2 linked regions of the Homo sapiens genome follow. The protein of the gene in region 2 purifies or fractionates together with the protein of the main gene of each other region. This does not show direct contact. Each region holds a gene or a part of one and is shown on either strand. Other genes may lie near its edges. The genes, in order: ELAVL4 and ATP8B4.

Evidence for each region.
Region 1: the proteins of ATP8B4 (region 2) and ELAVL4 purify together in Homo sapiens (affinity purification with mass spectrometry; one large-scale study listed by BioGRID and IntAct). This does not show direct contact.

Annotation. Positions count from the first base shown.
Region 1 is NC_000001.11:50,139,631-50,143,454, forward strand, and holds part of ELAVL4 (ELAV-like protein 4), read left to right. Parts: intron 1-2,141; exon of another isoform or gene 2,142-2,222; coding exon of another isoform or gene 2,223-2,228; intron 2,229-3,824. UniProt on the Homo sapiens protein: RNA-binding protein that is involved in the post-transcriptional regulation of mRNAs. Plays a role in the regulation of mRNA stability, alternative splicing and translation.
Region 2 is NC_000015.10:49,926,967-49,930,790, forward strand, and holds part of ATP8B4 (probable phospholipid-transporting ATPase IM), read right to left. Parts: intron 1-3,824. UniProt on the Homo sapiens protein: Component of a P4-ATPase flippase complex which catalyzes the hydrolysis of ATP coupled to the transport of aminophospholipids from the outer to the inner leaflet of various membranes and ensures the maintenance of asymmetric distribution of phospholipids.

The sequences.
Region 1 (3,824 bases), on a different chromosome or scaffold from region 2:
TCCAGGAACTAGTGTTACAGGTAACTTGGGTAGATAAAAGGAGCCTGGATTGTGTTGAGAGAGGTGCCAGAAGGGAACAGAGGGGTGGCTTTTTAGTTTCCAAGAGCAGGAGGCTGGCTGAGCCTCTGCTCCTTACCTCCCCTCTGCAGATATAAACGACCCTGGTGATGATCCGGCAGCTGCACGTCTGAAGCCTTCCCTCTTGCTTTTGTTGTATATTTTGCAGAAAAGAGTGGTGGGAGGGGTGAGGTTAATGCATTGAGTGTGAGTAATTAGTCATTCAAACCATCGACATTTACGATGACAGGATTTGAGTGCCTACGTTATTGTGCACCGCTCTAATAGTTTATCCCTGAAATTTTCTGCCTGTATAATGTTTCTTAAAATATATCACAGAAACATAAAAGATTTAATGTAGTGCTTTGTACATCCATTAGAGTTCGAAGTCAACTGAACCTCCTCAATGATCTATCCTGGATGCTGACTGTAATTCTGTTCTTAATTGCTATTCAAATGAGGAAAGGAGGGCAAGTCAGGGGCTTGGAACCTGGTCAGCTGCAAAGTTGGCTGTGAGACCCACACAGAATGTTTCATTAAAGTACATATGCACACTTGAGTAACTGATATATTTATTTGCAATGAAAATTGTGCTGTTAGAATATCAAAGGCGTTAGCCTGAGGAAGCAAGTGTTCTGATTTTGCCCAGCCAGCCTCTGTACTTACTGGAGGATGTGCTTTCTACCAACACACATCTTTTCTACTCCTGTTCTGTCCCTCTGTTTCCCAAGCAGAGAGAACAGGTGTCCTGTCTTTGAGGTCTATCATGTAACCTTAAAATGCTGTAGTTTCATATTCGTGCATTTAATATCTTTACATCTTGGCAACTTCTCTTATTTTCCAGGTAATGTTTTAAAATCCTCTTGTTTCATTCACATGTCAGATTTGATTCTGATGTTTTACATTTCTGATTTTTTTTTTCAGCCTGTGTTGCATCCTAAGATGCATCATTAAGACCTGTGAGGGGTCTTATTATAGGATGTATATTAACACATTTGCAAATGTTTCTCAGCTTTCAGACAGCACACTTTTATTGAGAAAACTCTCTTTGTATGTGTCCATTTGTGTGTTTTCATCAGTTCCTTCTGGATACACAAAAGAATAACTGTGTAGTGTAGATGCAGAGCAAAGAGAGCTCCATCTACATTGGATGAGAATGACTTGACCTAATTTATAGATGTGGTCAGCTAAAGTAGCTCAGTAGTGAGCATTGTATCTCATGGCTCCTTTTAGAAGCTAGTTGGGACCAGTTGGGCTGTCTAATCTACAGACAGGACTCACCTCCTGGAGTCAACATAGATTAGGAAATCCACATAGAATGCAAGGAAGGCCACAAAGCTGATGCGGGGACTGAAATTACTTTGCTGCAGCCTTGTTACTTCACAGGCCTTCCTGGAGGAGGTGGACCTGTGAGATGTTCACATGGACAAGTGCTGGCTTTCACCACGTGTCTGAAAACGAAAGATGAACCTGACTATCAGGTGACCTTTATGAGTTTTGGTCCCACAGAATCTCAACATGAAATTCTTCCACATACTCCATCACTAGCACCAAATAAGCTGCCTTGGTGTGGGATATTTTCTAGGTGTTTGTTGGGGAGCTGAAAGAAGGGTAACCTGAAAAAGGTAGAAAACAGAGAAGAGTTTCTAAAGATTGTGGGCCTGGGGGGTTTTTGCCATTAAATCGAATGTAGTAGTCCGGCCTCCTGAATGGATAAATTCTGATTTTCATGTTCATTATCGAGTTGGCAGTGCTTCTTATGTTTGTTGCCTGGACACCTGACTCAGTGAAGCAGTGAGACAACACAGCAAATGGAGGCACTGCAAAGACCCAGAAGGCCCCACAGCTTGGCAGAGCTGAAACCTGCCTCCTAGCCAGGAGTTGTGCTGATGCTCTGTAATGCCATCCCTTTAGCATGCCTCCTTCCCTGGGGACCATCTCCCTGATTCTTTTCCTGGACCCTTGCCTCGAAGGCAAAGTGGCTGAATAGGCTTTGCTGGGTACAACTTCTATCAGTCCTGAGGGGAGCTTGATTTAAGATTCTTCTCAGAAGCTTTTTGCTTTCTCCTTGCTGTCTGGACCAGCCTTCTAGAATCCTAAAGTTGACCTGAAGCCAAGAAGAAAATTCTGGTGATGGGAGAAGTGGAGCCACTTAAATTACTTACATGATGGTAAAGAATCTTAGATGCTCCCCATCTTTCTTAGTCTGCTTTATTTCCTTGGCTCCTCTTGAGCCATGTTTTCCTTTTTGTTTCATTTATCATTTGTGACCATCAGAAGATGAAAGAATTAGAATAACACTCACCTACGTGGGGCATGATGAGGAATAATAGTTATGATGCCTCTGGGCCCTTTGTATTTTAGACATTTAATGTACATTATCTCTCATCCTGAAGATAACCCTGCGTGGCAAGCTTTTTATTCCAGTTTTGCTGAAGAGGAAGCTGAGGCTCAGAGTATTGAAGTAACCTGCCTCAGATCACACAGCTAATAAGTGGTAAAACTAAGTTTTTTGTTTTTTTGTTTTTTGAGACGGAGTTTCACTCCTGTTGCCCAGGCTAGAGTGCAGTGGTGCAATCTTGGCTCACTGTACCCTCTACCTCCCAGGTTCAAGTGATTCTCCTGCCTCAGCCTCCCGAGTAGCTGGGATTACAGGTGTGCACCACCACACACACACAGCTAATTTTGTATTTTCAATAGAGACTGGGTTTCTCCATGTTGGTCAGGCTGGTCTTGAACTCCTGACCTCAGGTGATCTGCCCACCTCGGCCTCCCAAAGTGTTGGGATTACAGGTGTGAGCCACCGCACCTGGCCTAGAACTCAGATTTTAAATCACCTGTTGTCTTGACTCAAACACTCATTCCATTTTTACTATACCACTCTGCTTCAGATGAGAAAATAAACAAAAACAAAAACAAAAAATAGTCTCTGAACATTGATGAGGATGTGGAGCAACTGGAACTTTCATACTCTGCTGGTGGGAATATAAATGGATACAGCCACTTTGAAATACTGTTGGCAGTATCTACTGAAGCTAAATATACATACACCCTATGATCCCAAAAACAGAATCCTAGGACTATCCCCAATAGAAATATGTACATTTTTGTACCAAAATGTTGTACATAACGCTCATAGCAGCATTATCTATAGTAGTTCAAAATTAGAAACAATCCAAATGTTCATCAACAGATAAATAAAATGTAATATTTCCACACAATGGAAATTGCTATAGCAGTGGGAAGAACAATGCATTGTTACATGTAACAGAGCAGATGACACTCCATACATGTGTGAAAAGGCACAAAAGAGTATGTGTTGTATGAGTCCATGTATATAAAGGTAAAAAAATAGGTAAAACAAATCTGTGGACTAGAATTCAGAATAGTGGTTACCTTTGAGGGGTGAGGTAAATGACAGGGATGGAGAACCTGAGAAAGGCATTTGGGGTGCCAGTCATGTTCTGTATTGTGATCTGAAAGGTAATTACCCAGTTGTGAATTGTGTTCACTTTGTAAACATTCTTTGTGTTGTACCCTTAAGATTTATACACTTTATTACATGTATGTTATAGTAAATGAAAATGCTTCCCCCCTAAATCCTCTGAGCAGGCAAATGGTAATAATAATGGAAGCTACTAGTTATCAGATGTCTGCTATGCCTTGGTTTCCTCATCTATAAGACATAGAGAATATTAGAATATGCTTCATTGCCTTCTTGTGAGGAGACAGTGAGAGAAGTCACATTGGATGATTGGCAGAGTAAC
Region 2 (3,824 bases):
TCTAAAGATCTCGTAAGAGCCTTCCAAGAAGCTTCTTGTAATTTCTTCTTCTTTAATGGTTATCTGCCACTTGCCCCTGTTAATAGCCACCTCTGAATTTTATCTCTGTATTTCTATTTACAGAATTAGTAGAATTGGTCCTTCCAAAACTATATAATGTCATTTATATTTTTTACTAATATAGTATATTCTGTTCCCTCTGGAAAAAAATCCTTTATAGAAATCAATTTTTATGTAGATACTTCTGACTTAAATCAGGGCTCTTTCTTCAGAATGAAAGTACTACTGGTATTGAAATTATACATTGATGATTTAGTGAATAATGGCTGCCACCCAAAAACAAGGAAGCAGAAGAGGGAGGAGGAGAAAGGGGAGGATCAGCAGCAACAGAAGCAATGCCTGAGCCTTTGCATCAGGGTGTTGTTCCTACAGACCAACCCATGTGACGATCATGAGACCAGGATTGTTTTCTGCCTTGTTATCATGCAAAGACTTTTCTGCCCTGGTAGAGTCCCTCTAAAAATCCTCCTGATTAAAAACCAAGCAGAATAAAAATAAATCCAGCAAACCTTCATGCATTCTGTGGTAGAGCACTACCTTTCCTCATATGGGATCCATTAAGGCAAACATCTGATGTTTGTGGTTAGGCTGCAATTTCTCCACAGCCTGTAATGGTGACCAATGCTGAGGAAAAGCCAAACATCTCCCTGTGTAGCAATTTTAGGTTTTTGTCAACACCCTCAGAGCAAAAAGAAACCAACTCTGGGCCAAACCAACATCAATAACACCTTCCCTGAGGCTGTAAATAGAAGATAGCTCCTGCTGATACAACATTAAGCCAACACCTAGAACGGCATGTGTGCTCATCAGTGGCACTGGTGATGACTTCCCTGTTGTCAAAACATAAAAATAAAAATAAACATTCTCAGATGTTATTTGGTTTTTACCTGCTGAGAGCCATCTTTCAAGGCTAGTTTCTAGTAGTTAGAGACCAAAAACCCTACTGTTACGTATAAACACTTTTTAAATAGTAAGAAATTGATTAAATACCATGAGTAGGATATTCATAATTTACAAAGTGCTGGGTTGAGTAGTATTTCATAAACATTTATAGAAAACTTATCATGTGCCAAGCTCTGTGCTTTGCCTTGGGCAGTTTAGGAAGACTAAGGTACAGCACTTGCCTGAGGTAGCACACAGTTTAATGACTAGGATAGTTGTGAGTGTCATGGAATTAATACCACACTGGTGTTATGAACAAGGCATTCTGGGGAACACAGAAGAATGTGGTTATTTGGAGAATAGAAAAAGAATTGAAAAATGGGTAACATTTGAATTGGACATTACCAGATGAGTAGTAGGGAACATTTCCAAGAAGAGAAGTGGGGGAAAGGAGTATTCAAGACAGGAGAACAGCATGTCCAAAGGGTATAACAGCAACAATGCATCCAGGGATGGTGAGGTCTAGTTGAGCTCAAAGTTTTGGAAAGTAGAAGAAAAGTAGATTGAGATCAGATTGCAAATAATTTTGCACGTCATACTAATGACTTTTTCTTTTAAGGTTTGGGAAGCCACCTATGCTTTTTAAGTAGGGGGTAGTAAAATCAGGCCTATGTTTTAGAAAGAATATCCTGGTGACAGCATAGAGGATTATTTTAAAAGCGAATAATTTTGAAGATATTACAATAATACAAGCAAGCAGTGACAAGAAACTTAACTAAGGCAGGGTACTGGGAATTAGGAAAAAAGGACAAAAAGCTTTCATGATTAAAAAGGGGTTTATGAGGCCATTTTAATAAATATTATTCTGATGCCTCTGAGGAGAGACTTACAAACAGGGTGACAATAGAATATTCTAGAGATGTTAAGGCCTGAGACTGGAAGAGAAGGAGATGGATTAGAGAAATGTCTCAAACATCTCTGGGGAAAATAATGGATAGTATTTGAGGATCTATTAGTCTAGAGAAGTGGTCCCCAAACTGTGATTCCCTGACCAGTGGCATCAGCATCACCCACAAGCTTGTTAGAAATGCAAATTGGTGGGCCCCACCTCAGACCAGCTAAATAAGACTAGAGGCTGAGGCCCAGCAATCTGTATTGTAACAAGCCCTCCTGGTGACGCTGATGGGAGGTAAAGTTTGAGAACCATCAGCCAAGGGGCACAAAAGCTATGGAAAAAAGTGAGTGAGCTATAATAGGCCTTAAAAGACCAGATTTTGGAAAACCTGGGTTCACATATCTGATCTGCCTCTTACCCAACTGCGCCACAAGTTGTGTTACAGCTGTGTGACAATCTTTGGCAAGTTACTTAAAATCTTTGCATTTAGTCTCCTCTTGTCTTAAATGGGACATGCATGTTACATGCAGTTGCAACGATTCAATAAAAGAATTCATTATAAAGTTCATGGACAAGCATACAATGAGAGAGGTAACTGTGAATTTTAATACAGATTATAGAAAGAACTATAGTTGTGAGAAAGAAAGTTCCATATTTGACATAAAACTTTAGGTAACAATCCAGTGACAGGACATAACGGAAGCTGAAAATGTGTGTTTGGACTCTAGAAAGAGATCGAAGCTAAACAGCTGTATAAGAAGGTCACAGAATATAAGCAATAGCTACCACCATGTATGTGGTCAAGATCATCCAAGAAGAACACAGGAGCTAAAAAGAGAAAAGGACATCAATATTGAAGAATGGGATGAAGGAGAATAGTCAGCAAAGGAGCTTGAGAAAGAAAACAATGGGACAAGAAGAGAAACAGGAGCCAGAAAGTTTACAGAGACCAAAACAGGAGTGTCAAGAAAACAGGGCCAACAGTCTCAAATACTACTAAGTTTAAAAAAATAGATAGATGAACAGATTAATAAGGAAAAGCCATTGGACTGGGAAGTTACAAGGTTAATGGAAACCTCTGAGAAAGCATTTCTTCTTGAGTAGAGGAAGAAGAAACTTAACCCTAATGGGATGAAAAGAGTAAGAAAGGCAAGAAGCAAAAACTGACCTGAGAAACTAATCTGGGATGGAAAGCAGAAAAATATAGTGGCAAAGTCAGTGGACACCAGCATATGAAGAATATTTTTAAGGAAACAGGAGGATAATATAGTTGTGGGCTGAAGGAAGGAGCCAGTAATTGAGAAATTGAAGGCAAAAGCAAGAAGTGAGCAAGCAAGGAGGGATAAGGAATGGGACTGGAAAAACCTTCAGCTTTGAAAAGGAAAAAGAGCAATTGTTTTCTGATGCAGGAGAGTAAATTATTAAAGATACAGCTTAGGGATGAAGAGGGAGGATGGGGAAAAGACTTAATGGTGTGCATTCCTGAGGGCCTTTATTTTCTTAGAGAAATAGGAGATGAATTTAGCTTTCAAGAGTAAAGAAGATTGTAGCAGTGTTGAGAACTTGAGGAAACAGCCAAGGTTTAGAATATCTATTGTGAAAATGGAAAAAGGCACTAAATATGAATGAGAGTGACATTGACACAGCACTAAGAGTTAGCATTGAGTCAGGAAAGCACAGATTTGTTGTGGTGCTAAATATAATATTAGGTGGTCCTCTCCAGCAATGGAGGTGGACAGAGAAAATGAATGATAATGAGGAGGCTGAGGACGATGTTCACAACAACTGTCATGTGCCAAGCAATTTAGAAACTCATCCGGAGCCAGTACTGTATAGTGAACAAGTGAATGGGCTATGCAGTCACACTTCCTAGGTCTGAATCCCAGCTATTCTACTTCAAACTATGCGAACCTGGGCAAGTTACTCAACCTTTCTGTGTCTTAGTTTCATTATCTGTTAATGGGTATAAATATAATAGTTCCTACCT